Linked DNA regions of Homo sapiens. The protein of the gene in region 1 purifies or fractionates together with the protein of each later gene. This does not show direct contact. Each region holds a gene or a part of one and is shown in the gene's direction. Other genes may lie near its edges.

Region 1 (3,500 bases):
CGCAGTGGGATAACAGCACGGGTTTAGGCCTCGGGAAATGTGTGCTCAGCCCTGCCCAGAGCCTTCTTACTGCCCTCCACATACCTATGTTGTACTTTTCAGCTGGCTGAGCGGATACCTACCTCACCCTGTCTGATGACCCTCATCTCTGCTGAAGGAGAGTCAAAGCAAAAAGCCCCAAAAGAAGAGAAGAGACCTCCCTGGGCCCCACCTCCTCAGCACAACTTTCTGAAAAACTGGCAGCGTAACACAGCCCTGCGGAAGAAGCAGCAGGAAGCCCTCAGCGGTGAGCAGAGCAGACAGGGCTCCCGCCCGGCCTCCATCTGGCAGCAAGGCTCTGCTGGGTTGTTTGCTCTCCTCCAGAGCCTGGCCTTGGGCTGACCACATTTGTGCTTTCACTCCCAAGAGTGTCTCACTCTGAAGCTTCAGTGGATCCTGAAATCAGCCCTGTGAGGGAGGCTGCCCGATGCAGACTGCCAAGGCCCCTGTTTGTTCTGGTTCGGCAGAGTGGCGGCAATCTTGCCTCTCTCTCTAGAACACCTAAAGAAGCCAGTGAGTGAGCTGCTCATGCACACCGGGGAGACCTACAGACGGATCCAGGAGGAGCGGGAGCTCATTGACTGCACACTTCCAACCCGGCGTGATAGGAAAGTGAGGCCACCTGTCCTAAGTGCCCGGGGGCAGGGGGGTCCATGGAGGAGGGGGCGGGGGCAGGTGTCTGGACACAGGGATGCTGGTCTCAGGTGGCACAGCTGGGGAGAAAAAACCTATCCATTGCAAAACATCATTAGGCCCTCAAGGCCTTTACTAAATTATATGATTAGTCAGTAAAGTTATTCAGCCTGTGGTGACCACACAGGTAGCAAGTTATTAGAGTAGTCTTAGTGTTTGTCTCCTAGGAGCTTAGACTGAGTGGAGCCTACACCCTAAAGAGAGAGGTTGAAGAGTCCCCCACCTTTTTTTCTGGTAGACCAGTGCAGTACCTGTACCAACCCACACCATCTGGCTGGGGGCAGGTAAAGATGACAACAGGGTGTCCAGAAAACACGGCAGTGGATGCTTCTGTTATGCAATCACGGCAGCAATGAATTCCCCAGAGGAAGCATCTGTAGCCTGTGGTGGTGCTCTTGTCTTCCCACATCTCCACCAGCATCTGGCTGAGGTGTCCTGGTAATCTGACTCACCTTTCCTTCCTTGCCAGAGCTGGGAGAACAGTGGGTTCTGGAGTCGACTGGAATACTTGGGAGATGAGATGACAGGTCTGGTCATGACCAAGACAAAAACTCAGCGTGGCCTCATGGAGCCCATCACTCACATCAGGAAGCCCCACTCCATCCGGGTGGAGACAGGTGAGGCGCAGGGCTGTAAGCCAGCTAGCATCTTGTGCCTGGCCCGGAGGCAGGGTAGTGTGGAAGTGGCCAGCATAGCTCTACAGTGAAACAGGCCCAGGGCCTGTTTCTCTGTGGTTCTCTGGGGTCTTAGGCAAGTCCCAGAGTCTTCCTGAAGTCCGGCTCCCTCTTCTTTTTCTTCAGTAAAACGGTGAGAGAGCTAGGAAACTGGAGTGCAGCCATAGAGCTGCCGTCCAGTGTGGAGCCTTGAGCCACATGCCGCTGGTGAGCGCCTGGATCGTGGCTGCCCTGCCTTGAGAAGTGCTGTCACTGTCAACTGGACACTGGCTTTAGTGTGAAAACAATATATTTTATTAATCATTTTTATATTGATTACATGTCAAAATGACAATATTTTTGATATACTGAATTAAATAAACTATATTACTAAAATGAGGGCGGGCACAGTGGCTCATGCCTATAATCCCAGCACTTTGGGAGGCTACGGCGGATAGATCACTTGAGGTCAGAAGTTCAAAACCAGCCTGGCCAACATGGTGAAACCCTGTCTCTACTAAAAATGCAAAAATTAGCTGGGCATGGTGGTGCGCGCCTAGAATCCCAGCTACTTGGGAGGCTGAGGCAGGAGAATTGCTTGAATCTGGGAGGTGGAGGTTGCAGTGAGCCAAGATCATGCCATTGCACTCCAGCCTGGGCAACAAGAGCAAAACTCTGTCTTAAAATAAATAAATAAATAAATAAATAAACAAACAAACAAACTATATTACTAAAATGAATCCCACCTGTTTCTTTTTTCCTTTTTCAGTGTGGCATCTAGAAAACTTTCAGTGACACGTGTGGCTTGTGCTTGTGGTTTGCATTCTGTTTCTCTTAAGCAGCACTGCTTTAGAGCCTGCCAGGCTGCCTGGGTTCAGGTCCCAGCTGTGTCGTGTTAGTGAACCCCAGAGTGGTTGAACCCCTCTGGCCTGTAGTTTCCTCATCTGTAAAATATGCACAGGGTTGTGATAGGGCTAAATGAGATATGAAATGTATTAAGAGGTTCTGGCTCATTGTTAAGCACTCAATAAAAGGTAGCTGCTGTTATTATTTTTATTATAATCCAAAGATTTGGCTATTTGGAAGCTAATTTTTCAGGAGTCTTGTGTAGGGCTGCTGAGGAGGTATAGGACAGGAGAACGGGAGTCTAGCTGCCACAGGGAAGCTGTATTTTTAGTCCTTCCTAGAAATGGTGTTGGGATAGGCACTCTCAGAGCCCTTGAGAAGTGGGTGAGCAAGGGGACATGGCAGCAGCCTGTGCTGAGGGTCCTTGGACCTCATGCTAGGATTACCAGCCCAGAGGGACGCTTCATACCGCTACACCTGGGATCGGAGTCTGTTTCTGATCTACCGACGCAAGGAGCTGCAGAGAATCATGGAAGAGCTGGATTTCAGCCAGCAGGTTGGTATGGCCTCCATGCCCCAGTCAGAAGCCCCTTGGGGCGATGCCTGTCTTCAGTCAGCTCATCTTACCTTTCTCCATCTCTCGGAGGATATTGATGGCCTGGAGGTGGTGGGCAAAGGGTGGCCCTTCTCGGCTGTTACTGTGGAAGACTACACAGTGTTTGAAAGAAGTCAGGGAAGCTCCTCTGAAGACACAGCATACTTGTGAGTGCAGCCTGAACCCTGGGGAGAGAGGCTGAAGAGTTCTCCAGCACCTACCAGTATTAAAGAGCGGGCTTCCCTCCCTGAGATCAGGGTGCCTCTAGCCTAGCTTCTGTCCAGTGGTTGCCACCCACTCCTTGAACCCATTCCAGCACCTGTGCTGGCTTTCCTATTGCCATCTGCTCCTTTCCAATAACCAACTCCTAATGGGGATTTCCCAGACATTCCCTTGCTGGTCAACTGAGGGCTCTCTAGACCCTCCCACTGCTATGCATCTTGAATGCCTCTGGCATGGAGAGTCTGTGTATTTCTGTGTACTGTGAGTGGCTCTGGCAAGAGGGCTTAAAGAGTCTGTGTGTTTCTAAGAATCTCCCATCTACAGCAATGGGTCAGGAGGAAGCTGCGTGGGAGTGGAGTTGATCATACTCCATTGCAGGGTAGAGCTGGTTGTGTTTCTAGGCTTCCTGGTGACCGTTTCTGTGGGGTTCCACATGGCATGACTGTGGCAGC
Region 2 (3,164 bases), on another chromosome or scaffold:
ACAGGGTTCCTCATGAAGGTGGGCGGCCACCTGGCCTGGGCCACCAGCAGCACATGGAGCAGACCTGAGGGGCCTGGCAGGGGGCACTGACCTCAGGATCCCCAGGTGGGGGTTTTAACCATGGGTGGGATCTCAGCTTCTGCGCATACACTGACAATCTCACCTGTTCCTCAGTGTACTCCTCTGAAAAGAAGAAAGGATAATATTTATCCAATCTGTGTTCTCCTGAGCTCCATCCTAGGGGTTTTTAATTTAACCAACAGCCATGTTGACAAAAGCCAACAATAAGCATGTCTTATTCTAGCCCTGATCCCAACACTGAAAGCGAAGTACTTTATAAAGAAGCCAGCAATTATGAGGGTTTCTTTATGTTAGTAGGGGAAAAAATGGTAATAAAAGTACCAGTGTAGCAAGTGAAGACCAAATTTATAGCACTGTGCATTAGATAGCAAAATCAGGTTCTTAACAATGAAAAGTAAACCTCAAGTTTCTAAATCCATATGCAGATGGTTAGGCTGTCCCTCTCTTAGCAAATCTCTCAGCCTCCTTCTTTCCCAAGTGCCAAGGATCCCTGGAGTAAAGCTCTGGGGTCTGTGCTCTCTTTCTGTGAGGGGAAGGCTGCGGCCCTATTTGCCCCTCTCTAGCAAACACCCCCACCACCCTGCCGCTTCCTGTGGTTATTGAGCCAGCTAGGAGTTACTCATGGACTCTAACCTGGTTTTAGTCCCATGTACATCGTTGTTTTAGGTTTCATACTGAAGAGCCAATGGTTTATGTGGTTTTATTCTGTCTTAAATATAAGTTTCAAGGAAGGGAAAACAAAAGTGATAAAATGATAGAACAGTCTAGAGGCCACTGTAAAGTCACCGCCACTTTACGTGTATGTCAGTCTTGGTGTTCTTGTATGAGTAAAATGGATGTAAAATCATAAAATCACAGTGAATGTTTCAGGCTACACTGGAAAAAGTATGCACTTAGAATTAAAGGAAATTGTATAATTCACCAAGATTTCTTTGTGTAGATCAGGGGTTGGCAACTATGACCCACAGGCTAAGACTGGTCAGCGGTCTGGTTTTTCACAGCCATGAGCTAAGTTACCTTTTTAAAGGGTTATATAAGTAATTACATCATATTTTTGATTTTGCCTTTGGCCCACACCACATAAAATATTCAATACCTGGCCTTTTTTTTTTTTTTTGAGACAGAGTCTCGCTCTGTCACCCAGGATAGAGTGCACTGGTGCGATTTTGGCTCACTGCAACCTCTTCCTCCTGGGTTCAAGCAATTCTCCCTGCCTCAGCCTCTAAGTAGCTGGGACTACAGGCACCCACTACCATGCCTTGCTAATTTTTGTATTTTTAATAGAGATGGGGTTTCACCATGTTGGCCAGGCTGGTCTCGAACTCCTGACCTCAGGGGATCCGCCCGCCTTGGCCTCCCAAACTGCTGGGATTACAGGTGAGCCACTGCGCCCAGCCAATACCTGGCCTTTTAAGAAGTTTGCTGACTCCTGGTATGGATGACAGAAAATGGAATAACGTTTTGTTTCTCCAGTCTAGGAAAAGCAAGTCAGGTAGTGGATAGACTGACTGGCGTCCGGGGAGCCCAGGGTATGTGAGGGCCACGTGGATGGAAGCAAATGCCTCCTGCATAGCCCTTGGCTCTTTGTCCCACTTGGGAGGAGTCCATGGATGTAATATTTACAAAACAATTTTTTCCTTACCATTTGCAGAAAGCATTGCATATATTTCCTTTTAGCTCAGGAAACTGGCATGCCCCACCCTCTGCTACTCCATCAGATGTAAATACAATGACTATAAGCCGTACAACTCCCCTCTCTTAGAAACCTCAGCAGGACCACAGAGCAAGGGAGTCAAAGCTTTCTTAATTCTCTCCAGTAAATGACTCAACTAATTTGATTTTTTTAATTAAGTCAAAATATCAAGAGAAAAATTGCTACTAAAACTTACATTTTGATCCACACTGATGTGCAACACAAAATGAAAGTTTTCACCTCCATTCCATTTTTTAAAAATTCACGGTCCACACTGAAACTTGCTGGGTTTTAGCAGGAGACAAAGGTGTCACCCACGCTGTCCTCATCCTGCTCTCTCTGTCCCAGTGACGCTCCAGCATATGATCACTGCAGCCGGTCCCTGGCCCGTGCCGATTCTGCCACCTCCCAGCCACACACATTTGCAGACCCACAAGAAGAACTGTAGCCTTGATAATTTCAGTTCAGGCTGGAAAAATGCCATGCAATAATCTGGTTTGCTTTCAGTAAGTAGGCAACAAGTGAAAACTGTATAATTTTCATCACCTATTCTGCTGTTCTATCTAAAATGAGTGTACCTGTGGTTTGTGAACTGGGCCCTTGTTTGTGCCAGATCCTTCAAAGATGTTCCCTGTCAGGACACCTGTGGCCCTGCCCCTCCTCAGACACCTTCCCACTGGCATTCACGTTCCTTATATGCAGTGTTAGCCATCTTTGGCCTACGTGGACTTTTTTTGTAAATTACACCATTTCCAGACATTAAACTTTTTATATTATGAAATTTACCATGTAAAAAGAACTTCATATTTTTATTGAGATTGCTAAGGCACTTGGCCTTCCTCCTTTGTGATTTTCAGTGTCTATTAAAGCATGAGTTCCCTCAGTTTTAAGTGCTGTATCTGGATCACTTTCTCTACTCTTTCCACACTGTCTAGGTTTCTTTGCAGTACATGGAGTGGGCCGTGTGTCATTACTGAGCACGTATCTCTCTAGTTTTAACCCCACCTCTACACCATAGCCTCACATCCGCCAAGCAGAGAGCACGACCATGCATGCAGCAGAGCTGTCCCGCACGTCTCTGGTCTGGGGGCACTGTCGGTGGGGGGGTAATTTAGACGCTACTCATAGTTGGAGGGCCAGAAAGTTCGACAGTTGAATACGTATTTCGACAAACAGAAACAGAGTTCATCACCACCAGATCCCTATATCATCTAACAAAACTTCCAAGGTAGTATTTCAGAAAGAAGGAAGATAATTCTATATGCAAAAGTGTGAGAAGCATGAAGGAATAGTAAAGAATTGGGTAAATATGCATAAATGAACACAAATATTGCCTTTATAAAAAGAGTAATGTTTCATTCGGCTAACAAAAAATACTAGACAATAATAT
Region 3 (3,500 bases), on another chromosome or scaffold:
AAGGTAGGATTATAAGATTTCTCAATGGGGATGATTAAATTGTCTCATGGAAAACTTCAGTTAATGTCATGCATCAGTTTTAACATATGAAGTAAAGTGTTCTATCCAGGATTAAAGTCAAGTTTACTTAGGCAACACAAGAATATTTCACTTAGATATGAAGAAAGGAAACACTAGTCTCCATTCACTTGAAATACTCTCATGGCAAATATTTATCCTCTCATTAAGTGCTTTTTCACCCTATAGGTAAGCATTTTTGTGCCAACATGTTGTCAGAAATTAATGTATGTTCATCTCCTCTGTTCCTGCTTATTTTTACTTATATATTTCAGCAGAAGGTCCGTGGCCATTCACTTCAATTTTGACCTCTGTCCCATAGTGAAGAACATTTAAAGTAATACTACTGGTCGAATATGAATGACTTTTTAGGAACTACTTTTTGTCTAACCTGAAAAAGTTCCACATTTGGAAGACAATTTAATGATGGTGAAGAAATAATAAACCTCACTTTACTTGTTAAAAGGGATATATATATATATATATATGTCTGCAACTTCAGGGAGAAATAAGATTGTGTTTGAATATTGTAGGTAGATGCATTTGTAATTAAGGATAATATCGTTTAACAACATGTATTTGGTTTCCCTCAACTTACAGACATACAGCTATTTAAAACTATGGCAATACTTAAGCATCTCTAAATTTAGGTGCTAAATATCTATTATTCTGTTGTAGTCATTAGGTGCCCTTCTCTGAAGTTATGTAAAATAAAAGCATCTGATCCTTCAAGGATAAAGTTGAGGATCACATGGTACGTGGCATTTGTTGTTATTGTTTTTTAAAGAGATGGAGGCTGGCTCTGTTGGTGCGGTGCCATGATCATAGTTCACTATAACCTCGAACTCCTGGCTCAAGTGATCTCCCACTTCAGCCTCCCGAGTATCTGGGATTATAAGCAAGAGCCACTGCTCCCAGCTCATGGTATTTGTTGATAGTCATAACATTTTTCCTGTATGGTAAGACGTATTTTTCTCAGTTTATAAATACGTAGCACTCAGGTTGAGACGACTTGGATTTTATTCTTAGAAATCCAGAATCCCTTGAAAAGGAAATATTTTCTGTTTCTTATAAATAAAAGAGTAATCTTACTTTCAGAAGGATTTTCCTTAGTGAAACATGTGTAACATTGAATGCATGTTAAATAAAAATGGAATTTCTAACTTTTTTTCAATAGTGCTAATTATCTTTTCTGAATGATTTTGAATGTCTTCTTAAATATACCCTATTTTTCTATTTTAAAGTTAAGTGCCTCACTTGCTGTCCATAGTTAGACAAAGAAAAACCAATTTCCACTGCACTAGTACCAAAATACTACTTTATACATTAGTTTTTCATAAAAGCTGCTGGAATGTCATGATTCAGTATTACCTAAATAGATTTCTGCTAAAATCCTCTCCCTCCTGTCTTTTTTAAGTTATGGAAAAACACAACTAAATTCATTTGATCATCAGCACTTGTTAGCAGGATTTCCTTTTTTACCTTTGCCTTGTTTCTTTAGCCCACAAATAGTACTCAGCATACTTTCATTAAAAATTTGGCACAATATGATAATTGTTAATATTCTGTTCTTCGTCTGTGTTTTATTTAACTTTTACTAGTGTTTAGAAGTGCAAGAATATTAAATAGCCCCTTCCTTAACTGTACATATTATCTTGAATGTAGATAAAATGAAAATACTGTAAATTAGAGTGTAGGAAAACTGGCATAGAGTTAATATATTTTAATGGGTTTACATTATACTTTAAAAGTAATTTATATAATTAAAATATTTGGTTTTAACTCTATGGGCTATTCTTTGGTTGGCTGAAGAGGGAATGGGTCTAGTAAGGTTTGGAAAGTTAAGCTTTGAACATGGTCTTTGTGTTTTTTTCCTAACAAGGAAAGGTTTAGTTCAGCTGTGCTATTTTAGTACACATCAGTTCTCTTGATTTATGGAAGATTCAGTTTATCAATTAAGAATTCCTGCAGAAGCACAGAATCATACCATGTAAGAGTTGGAAGGAAGCTTAAGAGATTTCTGTTCGAATCTCTTTGTTTCAAAGATGAAACTAAAGCACAGCATGTTAAATGACTTGTCTAAGTTATAGCTAGTTAGTAGTAAATAAACTGAAAACCTATATGCTACTGTAGTCCAAAATTTTATTATGTCCTCTTAATCTTTACATTTAGTGAGTCAGTAAGGAAATCTCTGCATATTTCTCATTCTCTTTGAAAGAGGAAAAAAACTTCTAAGAGAGCTACAACTCTATCACTCATGACAGAGTTGCTTGTAGAAAATAACTAATTCCTTCAGAACCCTGAGTGAATTTTTTCTAAGAAATGTGACTTGATTAAAATGGTTTCAAAAGAGCAATAGTGGAAATTAAAGTTTTAGAAAAGAGACCTGGCGTGGTGGTTGACAACTGTAATCCCAGTGCTTTGGGAGGCTGAGGCCAGAGGATCACTTGAGGCCAGGAGTTCAAGACCAGCCTGGACAACATAGCAAGACCCCCCTCTCTACAAAAAAAATTTTTTTCTGAAAAGAATAAGTACATTTTAGAGTCCATTTATTTGACGACAGGCAGTATGACAGGTTGCTGAGGTATATAAAATTTTCTAGAGAAATGCTGAGTTTGATGACATTTTATCTTCAGTTTTGTAGAACAGATGTTAAAATGTTAACTCTCCTGGTGTGCAGAAAGCTGTAATCATGACAGTTGATAATATGCAATTTAGTTTGATTTTATAGGTTTAATTATAAAAGGCTTCACAATATGCATGTTTTAGGAAAATGTTCATTTATTTAGTCATATAATCGTTTGTATATATGTAAATAACTTTATTCTGGAATAATGTGGGTGCCATCTTGAGCGTGTGTTTTTATCTGTTTTGGATTATTTTTTGTATACAAACACCATAATACTGTATTTTCCTGTTATCTACTTAAGTCTAGTTCTACTTTTTCCCAATAATTTCAGGAAAATACAAGCTTGAGATATTATACTATCTCCCTTGGTATTTTTTGTGTGCAAAGTCTTAGAATTGGATTTATAACATTGATAATAAAAATATAAAACGTTTTTCCTCGGGAGTTAAGATGGTAAAAAGAAAAAAATAGAATGAATATGATCATTTCTCCATCATAAAGGAAAGAAGAGACTTCATTGTGTGTGTGTTTTTTTTTTTTTTTTCGAGATAGAGTTTCACTGTTGTCACCCAGGCTGGTCTCAGCTCACTGCAACCTCCACTTCCTGGGTACAAGCGATTCTCCTGCCTCAGCTTCCTGTGTAGCTGGGATTACAGGTGTGCAACCACAAGGCTCGGCTAATTTTTTTGTATTTTTAGTAGAGATGGGGTTTCACCATGTTGGCCAGGCTGGTCTCGAACTCCTGACCTCAAGTGATCCACCCACCTCGGCCTCGCAAAGTGCTGAGATTACAGGTGTGAGCCACTGTGCCCAG
Region 4 (3,500 bases), on another chromosome or scaffold:
GGATGACCCACAGAGTAAGAGCCGTGAGAGCAGAGACTGTGTCTGGCTTGATCCTGGGAGGTCACCGTATTGATGCTGAACTTAGTGAGGGGTACCACTGGGTTGCCTAAGGAGGGGTGAACCGGCTCAGGTCAGAAACAGAGCAGGTCAGAACTCCCCTGCTGATCAGTAGTGGGGTCACGCCTGTGAACATAGGCAACTTAGTGCAGCCCTGTCTCTGATTTAATTTAAAAAAAAATTGTTTTGGCCAGATGTGGTGGCTCACACTTGTAATTCCAACACTTTGGGAAGCCAAGGTGGGCCGATTACTGGAGCTCAAGAGTTCGAGGCCAGCCTGGACAACATGGTGAGCACATTTAAAATAGGATTTTGTGCAGAAAGAGATCATTAGAAATTCATATACTGTGCAACAAGAGTACATGTTCTAGAGGGAGACCTGCCCTAATTAATACCCAGGATAGAAAAATAAGTACAGGGTCTCTACTAAAAATACAAAAAAAATTAGCTGACCATGGTGGTGTGTGCCTGTGGTCCCAACTACTTGGGAGGCTGTGGTGGGAGGATAACTTGAGCCTGGGGAGGGTGGGGAGTGATGGCGAAGGTTGCAGTGAGCCAAGATCACATCACTGCACTCCAGCCTGGGCAACAGAGTGAGATCCTGTCTCAAAAAAAAATTTGATGATGATGATGAAAATAATAATGTTGAAAATGAAAGTGGTATAAGCATCATTCATGCGACTGTGATTCCAGGAGGGAGATGCCAGCCCAACTGACCACTGTTTCACATGGCCTCTCTGCTTCCCCAAGCCATGCTGCTTTCTGAGTGTTCCAGCGTGCTGACTCTCAGGGCACTTTTGAGCCACTCATTCATTGAACTAAATTCAGTGACCACTCTTGGATTTGGGGTTGCGATGAAGACGTCTAGCACTTGGAGCATCTCCAGGGTGTCCCACTCCCTGGGATGTCACTGGGCATGGACACCTGGAGTCTCCCTAAATAGTCTATTTACCCCTCACTTGTAACCCAACATCAGCTTCTTTTTGTTCAGTCAGATTCTCCAGCTGAGAGATTTGGGCATTCTCTCTGGGTTCTACGGGTGCTGGTGGCTGAATGAAACGCCCTGATCAAGATCCGGGCTAGACGCTGGCATTGCAGAGCCTGAGCTGTACAGCAGAGTTCCCATATGGTTGGAAGACGAGCCTCAGAGAATTGGGAATGTGTCAGCCAGTCCTACCCAGTGCCAAGTAGCACAGATTTAAAGATTTCTTGATACTCCTAGACAGCTGAGCCGAGATTTTATCATCAGCCACAAACGCAGCCAGCCCATTGCCGCCTTGGCAGCATTTGTGGAATTAATTGGAGCACTGAGCTGACAGGACACCAGTGTGGGAGTATCTAAGAAGTTTCTCTTCAGTGCTTGTGTTGTGTTCTGTGTTGAATTGTGTACCCAAGGTTTCTGGGAGTGAATATTGCCCTCTACTGGGACACTAACATTTTTAATTCAAGCAATCTAGCCAAAAATGTTTCTGTTGACGGCAGTGTTTCTAACATGCTTGGTGGAAATGGAAATATTTGTATTAATGAGGCTGAATATTGAGAGTTATGGGGGGTTTCCCAGTTTCAATGTACTCTTGCCTCCCACCTGCTGTAGGAATGTGAGGGAGTCAAACCTTGTGTGTGTTGTTGGTATTCAAATAATTCACCAGAAACTTTTCCCTGTACTCATTTCTCCCCTGGGCAAGTCTCCCTCTAGAACATGTACTCTTGTTGCATGCTATATACGTTTCTGATGATCTCTTTCTTAGGAAATTCTATTTTAAATGTGCTAATGGAACCTTATTTTAAAGCAAAGTCTCCTTTTCTAAAATCACTCCTAATATAGTTATGATTTGTAATTGTTAGTACTCCAAACCCAAATTTCTCTCTATTGGTAAACCTTATAGTAATCTTATAGTCCATGGGACCTCTAAAATTATTTTAGTGTAATAGAACTAAATGGTGAATAAATTGCCAAAAATTTTACTTTACATTCTACAGGAATTAGCAAGTAAGGCACTTTGTATTTGTTAGGGCAATGGTTTTCCACAGTGACCCACAGTTATAAATCACCTTATAGAGCAATACAACTTACCTGTATGAATTTGTAAATAAGTATTTAGACATACACATAGTAATGAAACAAAACTCTTAACTTGATTTACTTTGTGCAGTACACTTTGATATTTTCTATTCTTTTTGCTTTCTTATTTCCTCCTTCCCTCCCTCTTTATTTATTTATTTATTTATTTTTGAGACACAGTCTCACTCTGTCGCCTAAGCTATGGTACAGTGGTGCAGTCACAGCTCACTGCAACCTCCACCTCCAAGACTCAAGTGATCCTCCCACCTAAGCCTCCCTAGTGGCTAATCCTTCCCTCTTCTTTTTTTTTTTTGAGACGCTCTGTTGCCCAGGCTGGAGTGCAGTGGCACTCACTGCCACCTCCGCCTCCCGGGTTCAAGTGATTCTCCTGCCTTAGCCTCCTGAGTAGCTGGGACTACAGGCGTGTGCTACCACTCCCAGCTAATTTTTTGTATTTTTAGTAGAGATGGAGTTTCACTGCGTTAGCCAGGATGGTCTCAATCTCCTGACCTCGTGATCCACTCACCTCAGCCTCCCAAAGTGCTGGGATTATAGGCATGAGCCACCGTGCCCGGCTCCTCCCTCTTCACGATCCACCAAAATCAGTTATCATCTACTATCCCACAATTTGAAACACTGCATTAGGGGTAAAGGTTTTCAGCTATCTCCACCCCTTCCTTTCTGGTGTGTGTATATGTTTTCTTTTCTTTCTTTTTTAAAGAAATAATGCCAGATAACAGAACAGAAGAAACATAAAGGGCTTAAATTCCCAGCCTTTAGGACAAACAGACCTCTAAGAAGTGCCTTCCATGAGTGACTTACCCTGAGGCACTGTGGGAAAGTCCTTCTCAGTGTACTTGAGAGTGTCATTACAACTCCCCTAATAAAAGTCCCCTACAGAACTACCTCTGCCATGGCTTGGGAATAGCATTACGTAATAATAAATCATATTGTAATAATAAATTTTTATGTATTTATTTTTGAGACAGAGTCTCACTCTGTTGCCCAGGCCAGAGTGCAGTGGCACGATCTTGGCTCACTGCAACCTCCGCCTCCCAGGTTCAAGCAGTTCTCCTGCCTCAGCCTCCCGAGTAGCTGGGATTACAAGCACGCGCCACCACACCCAACTAATTTTGTATTTTTAGTAGAGATGGGGTTTCACCGTGTTGGCCAGGCTAGTTTCGAACTCCTGACCTCAAGTGATCCACCCGCCTCGGCCTCCCAAAGTGCTGGGATTACAGGCATGAGCCACCGCACCCGGCCATAAATATTTATTAAGCACTTAGTGTGATTCAGATAGACTCAGTGCTGTGTGTGCACTGTCTCCTTAAATCCTCACAACCACCCTGTGGGACAGGTAGCATGATTTACCCTGAGTAAA

What was found. Proteins that work in one complex are often made in the same cells at the same time.
Region 2: the proteins of MYCBPAP (region 1) and TTC28 purify together in Homo sapiens (affinity purification with mass spectrometry; one large-scale study listed by BioGRID and IntAct). This does not show direct contact.
Region 3: the proteins of MYCBPAP (region 1) and CEP97 purify together in Homo sapiens (affinity purification with mass spectrometry; one large-scale study listed by BioGRID and IntAct). This does not show direct contact.
Region 4: the proteins of MYCBPAP (region 1) and BEND3 purify together in Homo sapiens (co-immunoprecipitation; one large-scale study listed by IntAct). This does not show direct contact.

Annotation. Positions count from the first base shown.
Region 1 is NC_000017.11:50,518,439-50,521,938, forward strand, and holds part of MYCBPAP (MYCBP-associated protein), read left to right. Parts: intron 1-102; coding exon 103-286; intron 287-535; coding exon 536-651; intron 652-1,201; coding exon 1,202-1,349; intron 1,350-2,671; coding exon 2,672-2,787; intron 2,788-2,877; coding exon 2,878-2,993; intron 2,994-3,500. UniProt on the Homo sapiens protein: May play a role in spermatogenesis. May be involved in synaptic processes.
Region 2 is NC_000022.11:27,977,514-27,980,677, reverse strand, and holds the end of TTC28 (tetratricopeptide repeat protein 28), read left to right. Parts: 3' UTR 1-2,664; downstream 2,665-3,164. UniProt on the Homo sapiens protein: During mitosis, may be involved in the condensation of spindle midzone microtubules, leading to the formation of midbody.
Region 3 is NC_000003.12:101,766,114-101,769,613, forward strand, and holds part of CEP97 (centrosomal protein of 97 kDa), read left to right. Parts: 3' UTR 1-3,500. UniProt on the Homo sapiens protein: Acts as a key negative regulator of ciliogenesis in collaboration with CCP110 by capping the mother centriole thereby preventing cilia formation. Required for recruitment of CCP110 to the centrosome.
Region 4 is NC_000006.12:107,074,016-107,077,515, reverse strand, and holds part of BEND3 (BEN domain-containing protein 3), read left to right. Parts: intron 1-3,500. UniProt on the Homo sapiens protein: Transcriptional repressor which associates with the NoRC (nucleolar remodeling complex) complex and plays a key role in repressing rDNA transcription.